Homo sapiens: one gene and its partners. The protein of the gene in region 3 interacts with the protein of the main gene of each other region in a biochemical or structural test. Each region holds a gene or a part of one and is shown on either strand. Other genes may lie near its edges.

Region 1 (4,555 bases), on a different chromosome or scaffold from region 3:
AGAAATGGCTTCCATTCTAATCCATTCAAGGGTTCTACTATGTACAGGGCATCAGCCACATTGATAACAGGTGATGAAATATTCCATGGCTGCACTGAAATGCCAATCAGGTGCCACCATTTGAAAACAAAAGAGATGTACACCAACACCACGTTGCAAGGGCTGAGAAAATGATACCTTGACACCCTCACACTCTCTCAGGGGAGCGACAGCATTATCTCCTCCTTACATGAGTATGCATTTTGGCCTAAAGTGTTCCTTGGGCAATCACACAGAAATAGTCACATGTGGGATGGAACATGCACAAGGATGTTCACTGAAGCACTGACTGTATGTGAGACAAGCTGCAAACACCCTGAATGACTCCACCCTGGCTTCCAGTGGGGCAGGCTCCCAATGGCAGCCAGGGAGATGAGGCAGGGGCTAGAAAGAGTAGGGAAGAGGGGCTGGGCCAGTGAGGAATGGGGAGCATGACAACTGTCAGGTGAAGAAGGCAAGAGGCAGGACACCATGAACAGATGGGCCCCCTCTCTCCCTCTTTCCTCCTGTGATATAAATCTATGTCAAAAGATCTATCAAGATGTGCATCAAACTCTTACCAGTGGTGACTCTTGGAGTGTGGGATTTGGGGAAATGGAGCTGACATTAAAATTCTACTTTATATTTATAGACTTCTAGATTGTTCTATAATAAGCATGAATTACTACTTTTAACATTTAAAAAACCCACAAAACTAAAAGTTTAAAAAAGCTGGGTCAGCTGAAATAGAGGCCTCACCAGCGGCGGTATTTGAGCCCTGCTCCTTCGGGTGGGCTGAGACCTTCAGGTCATGGCTTTTGCTGACCGCTGGCTGCCCGTCATGCTCCACCTGGCAGGTGAGCTTCACATCATCCCTGTGGGCAGATACATTCACCAGGAGCCAGCTCATCCAGTTGTAGGTACCATCCTTGTTCTCTGTAACGGTTGAGGCCGTTTCTGTCCGGGACACGTTTCCATTCTCCAACCAGGTCAGCTGTAGTCTCTGGGGGTAGAACTTCCTCACCTGGCAGGTGACATTCACCTGGTTCTCTGCCCTCACGGGCTGTTGAGTAACCTCCAAGGTGGGTGGAACTGAAACAGCACAGGGCAGAAGCTCTGACCTTGTGGCACAGACAGATCACAGGGAGGGCTCCATAACGTAGCTCCCCCACCACGGTGAGGTCATCACCAGGACAGAGCTAGGCAGGCATCAGGTGCTCAGACATTGAGGGTGCTCTTTGCATATGAATGAAATTACTAAGCACAACGCCCAGCACACAGTAGGTGCTCAAGGACTGGTAGCTCCTACTAGGCTAAGAATGAGGGAAATCTATAAGCACCACCCCTGGCATGCAGTTGGAATGTTGTAACTGTAGCAAAATAAAGAAAATCACCAAGCACATAGAGGCTTAGTTCATAGTAGGTACTCATTAACTGTGTTTGCTATCAGTGAAATAAATGAAACGGCTAGCACAGTCCTTGGCACCTGGTGGGTGGTGTGGTCACCCAGCCACTGCCATTAAAATGTTAGTAAGTGGCTGGCACATCTAGGGGCATGGGAGGTGGGCAGTTAGGAATTTAGGTTCCAGGCATTTCAAGCCCTGGAGCAAGAGTAGAGCTGGATGAGTGGAGGGTGGTGGGGGGTGGGCTTGGCGGTCAGGTGTGGGCTTGGGCTGGGTGAGGGTCTTCTACCTCGGATGGTCTCAGACAAGTTGGCAGTCCCACGAAGAGGGTCCCCCTGCAAGGTGACGTGGGCCACCTCGCAGATGACTTGAGAGTGAACGTCCTCGCGGGTCAGCACCACCTTGGCTGTGCTGTGGATGCTGTAGGACACGCTCTCTCCTACGGGGTCCACGTTGGTCTGGAAGTCTGAGAGCTCATTCCCATTTTTGAACCATTTCAGGGTGATGTCTCTGGGTGAGAAGCCGTGGGACTCGCAGGTGAAGCTCACTGTGTGCTGAGGTGTGGCCCTCGCCGCAGGGCCCGATACCACGGGGGCAGAGGGTTTGGCTACAAAAGGACCATCGATAATCAGGAGACATGACTCAGATGACAATCACTAACGATAAGTGTGTGACACGTTAAGAACCTTCTGAGACATTATTTTTTATCCTTCCAATAATGTGGAAGGATTAATGAGGGCGGTGTCCTTATTGTCATTTTACAGAGCAGGATGCAAAGGTTGGGAGAGGTGAGGACCCATGTGAGGTCAGACAGTGTAGGGGCAGGGCCCAGAGGGAAGTCCAGGCCTGAGTTCAAACTTCTCCACTCCACACAGGGTGACTTCCAGCAATTTGGGCACAGGATCAAAATTAACGATCCATCTCATCCTTGGTATTAACTGTTTCTACCCTGCCTCCCCTGGCAACAGTGCCAACCTCAGAGAGAGCGTTTATAGAGGTCAGTGCAGGGAGTAAGCAGCAACGTGGCATCACCATGAGAGCTGGAACCAGGCCGCTCAGCCCATGAGAGGGGCGGCCTGGCACACCCAGCTCCTTGTCTGTAAAATGGAACAGCAGCATTTCTCCTTTCTGGGATGCAGCGAGGATTAAATGAGGCAACAGAAGCAGTTTTGCTTTGGATAAACACAGAAGATGCTTCACAAAAATAAGCAAAAACAGATCTAACTTTAACCCAGACTTTATTCATATCCAAAGCTCTCTCTTCAGGTATTTATGAATTTACTTCATATTTTTCATTTTCTCCACAAATATTCCAGCAGGGTCTAATCTGTGCCAAGTGCTAAATTTGAAAGGAAGGGATACTTTTCTGAATCTGCGGTCTTCTTTGGTGTCAGTTTTAGATAGACACTAAAGATCACCAAGTGTGGAGAAAGCCAAAGTGGTTAATTATCAATTAATTACACAGACACAGGGCGCCCAAGCAGGCAGAAGCACTTCCTGGGTCCTGAAAGCACACACATGGCTGAATCAGAACGCGGGCTGTTTCTCCCTGCAGATGGGTCGTAAACGTGTCTCCAAATTGCTAATCATTACCCCATACCTCCTATCGCAGTCACCAGGAAGCACATATCACACATACTTGCATTTGTAAATATTAACTTCTCCCTCACACCCATCAAACATTTTGAGGGCACAGTAAGGAGGGTGTCACTTGAAGAAGTCAAGTCATTGAGGCCAGCGGCCTGGATGTCCCCACAGGGCTGAGGGGCTGCAATCAGTTCCCATTTATCCAGGGCTTCTCTGGAGCTGGACACTGGCTGCTCCCTCCATGCCCGTCAGCTCTTTAATCCTCACTCCATCTCTGTGAGGGGATCCTCGTGTGAGCCCCTTTTAGGACAAAGCTCAGAGAGGCCCAGGGCCAAAAGTGGATACAAACCCCACCCTGTTAAGAAGAGGGAGGATGAATGCAAGCACAGAGCCTGGTATGCAGCAGGTGCTTAATAAATGACCCCTGTGACTGTTATCAGGAGGTCTGGTCATTACTGCTTCCGAATCTACACATTTATCCTTCAGGCAGCAGAACAAAGCAGAGCAGAAACACCAAGAAAAGGCTCAAACCCTGCTCCCTGTGGCTCATGACAAACCCAAATGATACAAGGAGCAGAAACCACCAAGTGAGGATTCTCTCCCCTTTTCTAAACAATCCCCTCAGGAAACAAGTTTGGCGAATTGGCTTTCAAAACACAAGATCACAGGCGCCTCCCTCCAGAAGAGCCATTTACAGAAGCTGGAAGCATTTTAAAGGAGGAGGGAACAGACTCCTCCGTGACATCTTGGTGTGTCGAGGCAGGGAGGGTTCTGGGGCCGAATTGGAAGGATTTGCTGGGATTCCGGCGGTCATTTAGACAAAAACATTTTCAGGATGGAAGGTTTCCCCACACTGAGGCTGGATCTGAGCAGGGCTTTGTCTGGGGCCCCTACCTTGGCCCCCGAGGCCTGTATCATAAGAGGGGGTCTGGCCAGGCCACTGGGGCCTCCAAAGAGCTGTCCCGGGTGCACGTTGTTCAGAAGCATCCACACCCTGAAAAGCTGTTCTCCCATCTGGCACCCCAAGAGGACCATCTTTTCCAACTTGTCCTCCGTGACCTCTGGGTGTCTATCCCAGGGGTTTTCAGTCCTGACTCTGTATTAGAATCTTCTGGATTAATTAAAAACTTTAGATGCCTAGGCCCATGCCAGGCCAATTGAAGAGGCATTTCTGTGGTGGAGCCTGGGATTTATTTCAATGTTTCCCAGATGATCCTAAAGAGCAGCCAAGATTGAAAACTACCTGAGTACATCCTAAGGACCATTTATCCTTGAGGCCTGGAGGAGCACTAACCCATCTGAGGTTGCATGGCTTCAGCATCACACAGCTCACATCTGTTGAACATTGACTGCAGGCCAGGCGCCTGCTGCCCTAAGCACGCTACAGGATTTAACTCATTCGGTCCCAACTCCTGGTCTGTGAGGTTGGTGTTATCACTGACAAGTGAGGACACTGAGGCCCATGGTGGTGGAGTGCCTTGTCCCAGGTCACAGAGCCAGGAGGTGGCAGAGCTGGGATGTGGCCCAGGCAGTTGGACTCTGGCCAC
Region 2 (4,555 bases), on a different chromosome or scaffold from region 3:
ATATATTAGAAGCCCAATAAATGTTTACTGAGGATTATTTTATTCAACTTTTTAAAAAAATTTGATGAATATGGAGATAACAGTTTCACTTTCATCTCCAGGTAATCTGAAGATTAAACCATGAGTTATGTTGTAACTCTGTGTCAGGTGAGCAGCCATGCTAGATATAAGAACAGTGATCAACGTATGAGAAAGACAAATAAGAAAATAAAAGTAATTTACGGTTATAATCAAGTAAAATTTCAACAAATTTAATACAATGTGACGCAGTGGTGTAAATAAGAGACAGAATAGATGGCAATGAGGCATAGGTAATACATAGTTCACCACAAATAATTGTAATTAAAATGACTCTTAGAAGGCCAATTTTTGGTTTTCTGCTTCCTACTCATTTCTTTGCTGATTATAATCAGTATCCTTACATTTTATCTTGCATCAGTTAATCACAACAGTCTCATTTCATTATTATGTGGGGCATGCATTAAAATACTCTGAATTATAGTAACTGGCAGATGGGACCCTGTTGATCCTAAATGTCACTCCACTCCACCATGAGCTTATCTTCCCTACCTCCACGTTGCTATTCCACCATGCCTCTCATATGAGGTGAACTAACTCAAAACTCTTGGTTGGTTCAAAAATTGTGGCTTTTGGTCATGGATTATCAAGTACAACAAGGTGTTTAAGGAGCTGATATACCATAAAATCTGACGCCAAGAGGCTGTAGAGGTTAGAGTGGTAGGAACTGAATGAATTAATCTTCCCAGGAAAAGGGACCCGAGCTTGAAGGGCCACCCCAGGGAAAGGCAGAGAGCACAGCAGGTTCTCTTTCTGACAGATTGGAAATCCCAAAGGAAGAAAAAAATACACTCAGAAGCATTTGTGCCACGCTTAACTCTCAACTTTGGGAGGAGATACACTGGAGTTAGTTTTCCTTGATATGATTTGCCCTCTGCTTCTTTGTTCCCCTGGGCAGCACTTTTACAGTATCTGTCCTCCTGCATTCACATTTGTGATCATTTACTTATGATAACTTGTGCTCACTTCATTTGAAAGAATTTGTCTTATAAAAGCAGATCCACAATCTCACACTTTTTCTGCTTTTCATGTACAGAATCTAGATAACTGTAGCATTTACCTTCCGTACTAATATGCACATCTGGGAAAATACGTTATTAACTTTAGGCAACTTAACCTCTATGTGCTTTAGTTTTCTCATTTATAAATCAAAGATAATGATTGTACCAACTTCACAGGAATGATATGGGTATAAATAAGTTAATGCATGGAAAGCACTTAAAATAGTGACTGGCAGATATGAAGCAGTCAATAAGTGTTGGCTATTATTATTACCTTCTATCTGAAGATTTCTCAAGAACTCATGAGGCAGTATATAAGAGATAAAATTCAAGAAACCAAGAAGAATAAAAAGATCATAGTGACCTTGAAACCATCTCTGATTTAGAAACAAAAAAGTGTAATTACATACTTCTTTTAATCCCACTACAAGAAGTGATAAACTACATATGAGCTGCAGATTATTATATGGATGAGAAGGATGAATGAGTTGTAAGAGAAATGCACAATACAGACAATAGTATAATCTATTTAATAATGTTAATAACACACCCTTTAATTGTTCATAAGGCCAACATAGTCATTCCTGTGTGTCACCATAGCTCCCTATGAAGTTAAAAAACATAGGCAGAAGAGGGGAACTTGGCAATAGAAACAGAAATAGGAAGAGAACTGATGAGTAATGGAGGAAAGAAAAGCCTGCCATGGTGAGGACCATATATTCTGACCTATTCTGACCATATTCTGACCTAGCTTCTTCATCTCTGTATTCAGCAGCATTTGATTCACACCAAAGCATTCTTGAATATGGCCTGAAATTCCTTTCTCTTAAAATAGCTATCTATATCTGTATCTATAATACCATCAGAATATCTCTCAGAATGCACTGATGTAATACTTCAAAAAGCCAGTATGAATGTGTCTTAGTGAATGTGTAATTTGTTTTATTAAATCCTGGCATGTTTTCCAAGTGGGAGAGGTGTATGGGAAAATAGGAAGACTTCAAGCCCCTAAAAAAAATAAAAATAAAAAGGAAGGAATATCCTCCTGAGGGGCAGGAAAATGGGAGAATAAAGCACTAGACTTAATCCCTGAGACAATTATACTGCAAGAAAGCCTTGTTGCTTGCAACCACACAGGTATAAATGATGAGGCTAAGCTATTCTTTCAGAGCTAACCACATATGTTTCCTAGGAGAAAACAAATGGCTAGCACATATGACACACAATAAATACATCTATTCAGAGGAGTTGCCACTGGAATTCTTACACACTAAAATTATAAGCCATGGTCCATTGAAACAGGTACCATAGATAAGTGTTAATTGAGAACTAATTGAATGTATTATATAATAAAATAGGAAATTACAAATGGGAAATATTTTTTCTATACTTGTGATGCACATAATTTAGCTTTAAAATTTACAGGTATAAAAGTTTTTTGAAGGTGAAACAATATATCATCTTGGCACTGTTTTTCAAAAGTTCCTGCTGAGTAGTACTTTGATAAAGGTTTTCAGGGGGAATAAAAAAGGAAACTCTTCAAACTTAAGTCATAGATGTTTCCATGATTTTTTTTAAGAGAAATCAAGACGTGAACTTAGGGTAACTTATTAACTTCAGCAGTATCTAACAATCCCACTACATTTCTAAACATTTAAATTGCACTTTTGCCTTCCTCTTTGGTTATTTGATCCAAAGTACACATTATAAGTCCTCTTATAAGAATATCTCACCTCAAAAGGTACAGGAAGAATTTCCTCATTTTTCTCTGTCTATTCTCTTTCCTGAGAAAACCAAAGCACTTCTGCTATTATGCTTTGGTTATAGCTGAAAATAACATGAGTCTTGACTGTAACTGCTATTGTATTCTATGAATTTGGAAATATAAGGGACTGGTGCATAGACTGTAAACTGCTGCAGTGGTCTGGCGATTTATTTGTGTTTTTATATTGTGTCAATATTAGGATAGTACGGCGTATTTTTATCATGCTTTACTGCCTTTCTAGAACTTTGGAGAGTTGAACACACATAAGGAATTAGCACTGGAGTGAGAAGATGATGAAGGGTGCCAAGAAATTCCAGTGGAAAACAGCATAGACTGCAACTGCCTAATAAGCAACACAGCTTCCACCTAGGTTCTAAAAGCAATAGCTGTGACTCAGGATGACAGCAAAGGAGAAGGACAATAAGGTAAGTGTAGATACGTATCTGGAAATTTTTCTGTGATATAAAGGGAGAAATGCCTTAGGGAAGAGATTCCTTTTTCTCTATGGAATCAAAAATTTTATGATAACGTGGATACATTTTATAAGACCATAAGATGGTCACAATTGGGTAGTTTCAAATTGCTAGCACATGGCTGTTTTACTCAGCACTCCTTGACACATAGGAGACTCAATACATATTTGGGACTAGATAATATTATATGATTTATGCTGCCGTATTATGCATATTGCATAATCCTGACTAGTGATTCTGACTTGACAACATTTACAAGCTTGAAAATAGAAGAGGGTGCAACCTCTGCAAGTAGTTTGAAAATAGAAGAGGGTGCAACTTCTAAGAGTAGTGCATAATGTGAATATGGTACCTGAATTATTGTCCTATCCTTGATTTCTGTAGCAAAATCAAACAGGAATTACTATGGTTCATGAATAAACTGTCCTTCTCAATGGTTCCAGATGGTTATATTGTTATCAACAGCAAAAAAACGGAAAAGTGACAAGATAAAAGTGTGAGCCAGACTTCCCTAGAAATCTGATGACCACCTAACCCCAAGGTGAAAGATTTATCTTTCATCCTGATAACCATTTGGGTGAAGAATAAGAAATGAAATAATTCTGTCTCTAGCGTGAGATTAATGAGTCACTCCTTCTACCATTCTCTACCCCCTCCATCCTTTTCCACTGAGTAGAATTTCTAACTTTGATTATAAAGATTTGAGGCCAATTATTGGGAAAAAATCCCAAGGATGCTAGCTTATGTGAGTATTTTTCCTAAATTCTAAATACAGGTTTTTCGTAAGTGGCCTACACTGGTTCCACTTTAGAAACAGGAAACACTCCATTACTTCTTCTTTATTTTCTTTTTTTTTTTTTCTGTTTCTGTGCTCTAAATTAACCTTTCCTGGAACTTGAGATAAAATATGAGGTTTGGGTTATTTTCTATGTGGTATAAAGAAGCTATATCTAGGCCTTTATCTTAACTGAGCAAGGACTATTTAACCAGACAAGGGAATGGAAGTATTCCTATGATACGTATGTCATGTTACATGTGGGTAGTAGTAAAAAATGCATGTGAACACAATGCTTGCCTGGCTTTGTTCTCTGTTCGTGTAGCTGCTGAAGGAGTCCCCTTTTTAACACAAACTACATTTGAGAACTATAACTTTGGACAGTTTGTAAAATCTATAATTCACAGAAGTTCTAATATGATGAATGCATTGAGACTTCTGTAGCTGATTACGTAAATATTTG
Region 3 (4,555 bases):
TTTAAGTAAAACCATATTACAGATGCAGAGTACCCTTTCTCAATCTTACTGCCTTCCTTTCTTCCCCAGGGGCATTTTCAGTACTCTGAAATTGATGTGTATTCTTCCCGCTCATGGTTTTTGCTTTTATTTTTATTACGTACATGCACATCTAAATAAAATTGTTTAGAAACACTACATAAATGGTGTAATATTCTACTTATTCAACTCATCATGTTTGTGGGGCTTATCCATATTGACAGTCGGAATTTAATTCATTCATTTTAGCCGATGTATACAATTTCATTACATAAACGCAGCCCAATATTCCACCTAAAATGAATATGAAGAGAAGGTATGTGTCTCTTTCTTAAGAGTCTATAATGGCCAGGCATAGTGGCTCATGCCTGTAATCCCAGCACTTTGGGAGACCGAGGCAGACAGATCACCTGAGGTCAGGAGTTTGAGACCAGCCTGGCCAACATGGTGAAACCCTGTCTCTACTAAAAATACAAAAATTAGCTGGGTGTGGTGGCACATGCCTGTAATGCCAGCTACTTGGGAGGGTGAGACAGGAGAATTGCTTGAACCTGGGAGGCAGAGGTTGCAGTGAGCCGAGATCATGTCACTGTACTCCAGCCTGGGCGACAGAGCAAGACTCCATCTCAAAAAAAAAAAAAAAAAAAAAAAAAAAAAAAGAAGAATCTATAAACTTGGGCCGCTAATGCTAATACTCAATGTGAGAACATGGTAGCCTCTGCCAGGTTGCCACTGGCCACAGCTGTTATACTCCTCTCCTTGTGGAAGAATTTATTAGGAATACTATCAAATCGCTTACACATTTTATTAGCTCTATTTGACTTCTGACTCTGGATAGTATCTAGCTATGGAAAAAAAAGCATTAACTTTATCAACGGCTGAAGATATTGACGCTTACCAAACCTGCACCATAACAGTATCAGGAGAGTTAAATAGCTGAGGCTGTCTTTTCAGGACTTATATAATTTCCAGTGAAATAAAACAGAAATGTGTTTTTGACAATCTTCTTTTTAACTTGTATCTTAATGACTTGATGTCACTTTCGGGTGAGCGAGATAAAATTTTGCTTACCCCTTCCCTTCTTTACTCTCCCTTTTCCCCAACACAGAAAATAAAAGTGTGTAAGTACCATATGTAGATGACATGGCTTTACCATCTCCTAGATGTGGCCTAAAAGATAGCTGTCTGGACAACTATCTCTAAGACAGGTAGGCTGGGTGCGGTGGGTCACACCTGTAATCCTAACACTTTGGGAAGCTGAGGTGGGAGGACAGCTTCAGGCCAGGAGTTTGAGATCAACATGGCGAAATGCCATCTCTGCCAAAAAAATACAAAAATGAGTCAGGCATGGTAGCTCACGCCAGTAGTACCAGTTACTCAGGAGGCTGAAGTGGGAGGACTGCTTGAGCCCAGGAGGCGGAGGTTGCAGTGAGTTGAGATCATGCCACTGCACTCCAACCTGGGTGACAGAGCAAGGCCCTGTCTCCATAGAAAAAAAAAAATCCCAACAAAAAACTCCCCAAATCAAAAAGAACAGCTATATATGGGCTCTACTGACTTCCAATAAGAAGGAGTGCAAAACGGTTATTCTGAATCAATGAATATGAAATCTATATCTAGTCATTTCATTTAACTCTCATGATTAACAATACAAAACAGCAAGTCATCCACATAATTCAATATCCATTTTATAACCAGTTTCTTTAGTAGCTATAGTAGCAAGTTACAATATTTTATGGGCTGTACTCAATTTTTTTTTAAGCTACACCTGCTGTAATGGTATGTACTAAGAGTTTTAGAAAAGATTGCCAGGGTAGGCATCTTCAATTGCTTTACATTTTTTCTAGGGTGAAGGAATTACTGTCAGGCTTTATGATACAGAACTCTGGGGTTCTCTTTCCCTTTCCATTTGTGTACTAGAGAAAATCTGATATTGCTTCCTGAGTGGTGTATTAACCTAGCCTGATTCTTGGTCCTTTGCAGGGGAAATGGCCTTCTGTGTAGGCTTATATCCTTTTGAAGCCACTCAGTTGTCAAAAGAGGGTGTCAATTCTACCTTGTGAATAAGTTGATTGTTACAGCTCTCCACTTAAGGGGCAAGGCAAACTAAAAGCTCTCCAGATACTTGTTGAGCAAAACTGAACCCCAAGCACATTGTTGCTGATTACTTATGAAAAGCTCTATTGAAACAATACTTAAGGAGAACCGCCTGGAGGTGGAATAGTCTGAATATGAATAGAATTGGTTTGATACACTCTACAGAATTACTGAAATGGAATCATCCTCTGGCTTCGTGCCATTAACTTACAGCATGACATATGAGAAACAGCCTCATGAAATCTAAATATTGTAAAAATTACTGAGGATACTTTTCATTCCATTATAGCACTGTTTTGTAAAATGAAGTCCAAGGTCTCAATAAAATAAGAAATCCACAAGTACCAGAAAATGTTTACCTTTTATATTTTCATTTTGATAAAATTTTTTAATATTTAGAAAAATACAACATGTTTTACAGTAATAATTCACAACTAACAGAAATTTTCTACCACTAAGACTTGAGTTTTTTTTTTTTTACTGGGGTTTATAGACCCTTGGATTCTCATGCCTGAAAAAAATACTTTTTGCTCCTTAAAGGGATCCACATGTTATTCAAGTTTGAGGAACACTGTATGATAGTGCCCTCTTTTTAAAGATCATGGGAAAATTGTTCCTTTGGTTTCAATACCAAAAATAGCTGTCCTCTGAGCAACTAAAATGTTTTGTCTCATGAATACTGTGACTCATGTAATTAATTAGGTTTTCTGCTTTGTGAGAAAGACCAGCACCAAATTTGTTTCCTGTTTTTAGAAAATGTGGAAACCTTTTGAACATGAAGTTTGTATTCTTCATTCCTGGCTTCATGTTATACTGCTTGTGCTCATTTGTCCAATTTGTTGACTTCCCCAAACTTTTTTTTAAAACTTAATTTTCTCTCTTACTATATACATATATATATTTCAATGCAATCTTAGACTTTTTTGTATGAATATGCAAACACATTTTGTATGGAATACAAATACATTTTATAAACATTTTTATTGCTAAAATTAAGCATCAACATTTAAAACCCTCAATTTTAGTCTATGAATTTAACATTTAAAGTAATAAAATTAATGTTTGGGCAAATAATCTAGAAATAAATTCTTGTTCAAAATTTTACATATTGCTTTTTGTGTCTACAAGTTTTGCCAGGTGCAGTGGCTCACACCTGTAATCCCAGCACTTTGGGAGGCCAAGGAGGGGTGAATCATTTGAGGTCAGGAGTTCGAGGCCAGCCTGGCCAACATGGTGAGACCCCATCTCTACTAAAAATACAAAAATTGGCCAGGCATGGTAGCACCTGTAGGCCAAGCTACTCAGGAGGCTGAGGCAGGAGAATCACTTGAACCCAGGAGGCAGAGGTTGCAGTGAGCTGAGACTGTGCCACTGCACTCTAGCCTGGACAACAGAGCAAGACTCCATCTCACACACACAAAAAACGTTTAATACCACATCCTTGATAAGAACTATTCTAGGGCCAGGCGCAGTGGCTCACATTTGTAATCCCAGCACTTTGGGAGGCTGAGGTGTGTGGATCATCTGAGATCAGGAGTTCAAGACCAGCCTGGCCAACATGGTGAAACCCTGTCTCTACTAAAAATACAAAAAGTAGTCAGGTGTGGTGGCGCACGCCTATAATCCCAGCTATTTGGGAGGCTGAGGCAGGAGAATCACTTGAGCCCAGGGGGTGGAGGTTGCAATGAGCCGAGATCACGACACTGCACTCCAGCCTGGGCAATAAGACTCTGTCTCAAAAAAAACAAAAAAAAATGAATTATTCTAAGTTATAATCTTCTTTATTTTTATTTATTTACTTTTTTGAGACAGGGTCTGGCTTTGTCACCAAGGCTGAGTGCAGTAGCACAATCACAGCTCACTGCAGCTTCAAACTCCTGGGCTCAAGCAATCCTCCCACCTCAGTCCCCTGAGTAGCTGGGACTAGAGGTGCCCACCACTATGCCTAGCTAATTAAAAATTTTTTTGTGTGTAGAGATAGGGTTTCACTATGTTGTCCAGGCTGGTCTCAAACTCCTGGCCTCAAGCCATCCTCCCACTTAAGCCTCCCAAGTAGCTGGAATCACAAGCATAAACCACGGCACCCGGCTAGGATTATTCTAATTGCTAGAGCTGTCCAAAAATCTATCTAGTAAGATTTTTAAAAACCTCATTCAAAGGTTACTTGTAAATTAAATTAAAAATATGGACTTAAAGGACTTAAGTCAGTAAAAGTATATGACAGATCAGTAAAAGTACATGACAAAGTTAATTTTATTATTGCTTAAAAGTTATATAGTTCCCAAGTAGATTTCACAAAATGGATGTGATGTAAGCTGATTCATATACATGTATCATCTTGTTTTTCTCACATTTACTGAAAATTATACAGACATGTGAGGAAATCTTACCTTCTTGGTAGGCTCCATCTGCCATGACTAAATGAAGAATCTTGGCATAA
Region 4 (4,555 bases), on a different chromosome or scaffold from region 3:
GGACTCAGTTCTGAGTAGACCCCCTCGGCCTGCCCTGCCTGATGAGGTGTTAGAACCTGTTCAGCTGCCACTCAGCTGCTGCACCCAGGTGGTCGCCTGTGGCTGATGCCCGGGACAGTGGCTGCCTCCCTCCTGGGCGACGTGGTGTGGCGAGCGCCTGCGTCAGGCCCACTTCTGGCTGCGTGGAGTTGGCGTTTCTGGCATTTCGGGCAGAGTGACGCGACCTCCTGGGCCCTTGGTCCTCTCCTGTGAACTGGGTGAATGGGACAGAGTGTGATGCCAGTGCTGCTCGGCTTGAGAACCCATTTTTGGGGTGACTTGGGGAGGAGTGGAGTGGGACTGTGGGGTGCCCCGGGCTGGACGTGCTTCTGGCTGTCCTCCATGGCTGGGTGCATTGGGTGAGGAGGTGCCGGGAGGGGAACAGGCAGGAGGCGGCAATGGTGGGGACGGGGTAGGGGGAACCGTGGGGCTGAAGGCAGGCAGCTGCCCCCACAGGTCCCACCCAAGGTGTGCATGATGTGGGGCAGGAGGGCGCTGGTGTAAGCCCCGCATGTCCACGGCAGCCCATGTCGGGGGAAGTGGAAGGGACTCAATTTAAAACGACCTCAACCATTCCAACAAAGCGCTTTACTGAGGGCACCCACTCCACAGTCCCAAGGAGGCAGACACAGGCCTGAACTGTCCACCCTCTATGTCCCGAGTGGTGACTCCACTCCCCACTGCTCAGAGATCACACCCCTTCTGGAGAGCTTGCATCCCTTCTGGAGAGCTTGCACGGATGAGTGACTGTCTTCACCCTGGGCTTCCCCAAGTCCGGCGACAGTGGCTGCCCCAGTGCTGCAGCTGGCTCTGGTGACGGTGGCACGGCATGGCCCCGAGCTTGGGAGAACAGCGGCCTGCACACACGGTCACGCATCACCGCTCGGCGGAGGATGGGAATATCTCATGGAGATCTGGATCTCAACCCCACATGGGACAAGGGCCCAGGGACCTGGCTTTCCTACACACCAGCTGGAAGGCTGACTCCCCATCTCACGTGAATGCTTCCTTGGTTTTGGGGGGCACTAGGAAGGTCCCCAGGGCCACGGGTCACTGCCCAGATTGTGGCATCCTCATAAGACTTGCGACTCTTCCCAGAGGAAAGAAAACCCCTCTCAGATGCTCCAAGGACTCCCCTAGTCTAGCTGCTTCCTGTGCCAGGCCCGGACCCCAGGGCGAACAGGCCTGTTCATCCACAACCTCACAGCTGAGGGCCCTCCTGCAGTTCTTCACAGGAGAGAGAAAGGAAGGCGCACCTGCCCAGCCCGGCCAAGAAAACAAAACTCTCTCCCATGGGTGCGGGAGGCTGCTGCCTGCCTGCTGAGCAGCTCAGGGCAGATGTCGCTATGGGTGCCAGCATTCTCGAAGTCTCCCTTGCCCAACAGAAATCTATCCAAGGACCAAGGGCTGGAATCGGCAAAGCCATCCGTGAAGACCTCCTCATTCTGTGGAGAAACGGCCCTTGCTTTCAGGAAGACTGTCACAACCATGCCTTGGGAAACGTCACCTCCAGATCAACCTTGGGAAAATCTTTTATTAGGGAGGACAGCCTGCAAAATCCTCCCTTTAAGAGCCCAGGCCAGCCTAGAACCTCCAGACCACAGAAGGGGAGTCCTGGGGACAGGACTGGTGTAGACAGGCATCTCCACCGCCCCGGTTAGCCAGTACCTAACACCCACTCCTGCCCTCGGCCGATGTGGCAAACCGGGGAGGCTTTTGTGTGGGGCCGGGGCTGCGGCCATGGCAGCCACCCTCCAGCTCCCGGGGGCTGGGGAAGACGCTGGGGTCCCCGTGGAGGCTGGAGCGGCGTTCAGGTCCTGCGGTCACTCGGCGTGCTCCTGCACCTCTTCCCCACGCAGGGCCTGCAGCCGGCTGCCCACAGTCTGCTGCACGGCCTCCAGCCCCTCTGCATCCAGCTCCCGCAGCAGCAGCAGGATGGCAGTCAGGACGTTCTGAGGGCAGAGGGGTGCGGACTAAGCCCACCCGGCACGGCGAGGCTGCTTCCCTCCACAAGGGCTGGGGCCTGGCCAGCGGTGCCCCACCACGGAGCGACTGGTCCCGGGGGTGTGGGCCGTCCAAGTGACTGACCGGCACACTCGGAGAATCTGAGCAGAGGAGCCCCGCCTGTGGACGCGTGTGTGGCACCTCTTCCACGTGACTCCTGTTGCCCTCAGCCCAGCAGGGCCCGGGCCCACATTCCACAGACCAGGACAGCAGGAGAGGCTGAGGGGCCAGGACGGCTCCGTGCGGGGCACGTGTTACACGTGTGTGCGCATTCACAGACCCGCACACGCAGCTCCCCCTGGGGCACAGCTCTTCAAGGCCCTGTGAGGCTCCATGCTCCCTCCCCACGGGGCCCTGTGAGGCTCCATGCTCCCTCCCCACGGTTTCTGTGCAGTGGGTGCAGTGGGCAGAGGCAGCCGCGGCCCCTAGCGGCCCGCCACTCACCCTGCCCCTGTGGCTGCTCGAGGCATCCCTGGCTGAGAGGGAAGGAAACTGGCCCCGGGAAGGCGGCTTCAGGCCACGTTCATCCTGGGCGCCGCTGCTGAGAGGGAGACAAAGGCGTGTGAGGGTCAGGGGGCTCGTGGCACCGGGGGGGCCTCTGCAAACCCTGTCTGCGGGTCGCATCCAAGCAAAGGAGGGGCTCATACAAATCCCACCTGGCACACGGGGGCAAGAGAAGGGAGGCAACTCCTGGGAGGTCAGGGGCTACAGATGGCAGCTCCTGGAGAGCCCGGCACTTACTTCACCTGTGGGGCGCCCTCCCGGCACCCTGGGGCTCCCCAGCTGTAACACCTTCCACCCAGGGCTTCAGGGGCAGGGTGGGGGGCACCCGAACACACAAATGCCGGGGGAGAGCTCCTGACCATGGGGTCAGGCCCTGTGCCGGATGGCAGATGCCTAACAGAGATCACATCCCGATGCCCCCACCACAGGCACCAGCAGCGGGTGTGATCTGCCAAGCAGGAGAGAAGTGCCCAGCTTCTGTCAAATGCGTTCGTGACCCGCTGCCAACTGCCCTGGGAGGCGCCGGCGTCTCACTGCAGAGTCAGCCCTGTGGCCCCTCCACGGCCCCCAGGCCCAAGGCCATACGGGCACTGATGGCCGTGCCCACAAACCATTCCAGTCACTGTGGCCCTAGGCCACCCCCCCCACCAGGGGCTCCCTGCACCTCACGAGCTCTGGTGCTGTGAGCCTTCTCTGTGCCAGGGCACGGGGCCTGGCTCACCCCCTCTCCTGCTCCCTGGCACATCCGCTGTTGGGCAAAACATGGACCTGCCACTGAAATCACTACCTGGGCACTGAGTCACTCCCAGAGAATATGGATGAGAACAGACACTCCCCCCGGATAATCCCTGTCCCTCACTTCCCAGAGACGCAGCTCACGGGAAGCCCCATTCACTCCCCGTGGGAGGACCCTGGGGGACAGGGATGGGCTGCGGAGTCCCCGCTGCCCTCCAGCCTCACGTTGCCTCCTCCTCGCTGTCCAGCGGGTCCCGGCCAGTCTCAGCAGCGGAGCTGAGGGAGCTCAGTGTGCAGCATAGCTTGGGGCCGCCGTGGCCTGTGCCCTCTCTCTCTGGGGCCGCAGTGATCTCCTCTCCCTCACTCAGTGCACGGGACAGCTCCTCCTCCGTCACAGCTTTGGGATGAAAGACAGAAGACAGCATGAGTGGCCTCACCCACGTGCAGGCCACATGCACTGCAGCTCCCGTCCTCACTGTGGCTTCAGGCACAGTCTGCTTGTGAAATGCATGCACGTGTATCCACCTCCAGGGACAACTCCCAGAGTAGCAGCCGGTTCCTCACTGTCCCATCCCCAGCCTGGCACAGGCTGACACACAACAGATGGTGGAGGGCTGCTCAGGAATCTCAACACCAGCCTTGGCCAGAAGCAAATACTCCTCAAAACCTCAACTAAGACACAATAGAAAAAGGAACAGACCATATTGAATTTATTCCATTTCTCTCATATATCAATTTCCCTGAAGTTTATATTATTAATATCAATAAAATTGTCTGGGAGAAAATAGTGGTGTCTGTATACCTGACAAGGATGAGACACTAGTGTGCTGAGAATGCCAAGGATGAACAAACAGCATGAAACCACAGCCTGGAAAACTGTGTCGGTGCTGGCGCTGGCTAGAGGAGGCACGAGTGCCTCCAATAGGTGGAGCGCAGCAGCAGGCACTGCGGTGCTGGGACGGCCCCTCCCCACGGCAGGGGCGCGATGGCACCGCCACCCTAGGTTCACAGTGGCCCGTGGAGCCTGCCCAGTCCCTGTGGACCAGTGCGATGCTGCTTGCCAGATACTGACGCCCCCGCTCGCCATGGCGCATGGCGATGGTCAGAGCAGGGCTGCTACTCACAGAAGCAAAAGAAGGAACCCTTTTGCTTTGCTACCAGGTCCTGCGGTCGTTGGGGGATACCCAAACTGTCAGTCCCAGGAGGGACCCTACGCTGCGCTGCTGCATTCGGGTGGCGGGATCAAGAGGAGACACAGAAGCCAGGGGAACAG

Evidence for each region.
Region 1: the proteins of NEK1 (region 3) and SIRPA form a complex in vitro, tested with the Homo sapiens proteins (one large-scale study listed by BioGRID).
Region 2: the proteins of NEK1 (region 3) and PTPRD form a complex in vitro, tested with the Homo sapiens proteins (one study listed by BioGRID and IntAct).
Region 4: of the proteins of NEK1 (region 3) and CFAP410, one has a biochemical effect on the other in vitro, tested with the Homo sapiens proteins (one study listed by BioGRID).

The regions. Positions count from the first base shown.
Region 1 is NC_000020.11:1,918,868-1,923,422, reverse strand, and holds part of SIRPA (tyrosine-protein phosphatase non-receptor type substrate 1 isoform 1 precursor), read right to left. Parts: intron 2,029-4,555; coding exon 1,711-2,028; intron 1,111-1,710; coding exon 778-1,110; intron 1-777. UniProt on the Homo sapiens protein: Immunoglobulin-like cell surface receptor for CD47. Acts as docking protein and induces translocation of PTPN6, PTPN11 and other binding partners from the cytosol to the plasma membrane.
Region 2 is NC_000009.12:10,602,370-10,606,924, forward strand, and holds part of PTPRD (receptor-type tyrosine-protein phosphatase delta isoform 1 precursor), read right to left. Parts: intron 1-4,555.
Region 3 is NC_000004.12:169,395,720-169,400,274, forward strand, and holds part of NEK1 (serine/threonine-protein kinase Nek1), read right to left. Parts: coding exon 4,506-4,555; intron 1-4,505. UniProt on the Homo sapiens protein: Phosphorylates serines and threonines, but also appears to possess tyrosine kinase activity. Involved in DNA damage checkpoint control and for proper DNA damage repair.
Region 4 is NC_000021.9:44,328,336-44,332,890, forward strand, and holds the end of CFAP410 (nuclear encoded mitochondrial protein C21orf2), read right to left. Parts: intron 3,680-4,555; coding exon 3,508-3,679; intron 2,585-3,507; coding exon 2,488-2,584; coding exon of another isoform or gene 2,128-2,487; intron 1,992-2,127; coding exon 1,863-1,991; 3' UTR 609-1,862; downstream 1-608. UniProt on the Homo sapiens protein: Plays a role in cilia formation and/or maintenance. Plays a role in the regulation of cell morphology and cytoskeletal organization. Involved in DNA damage repair.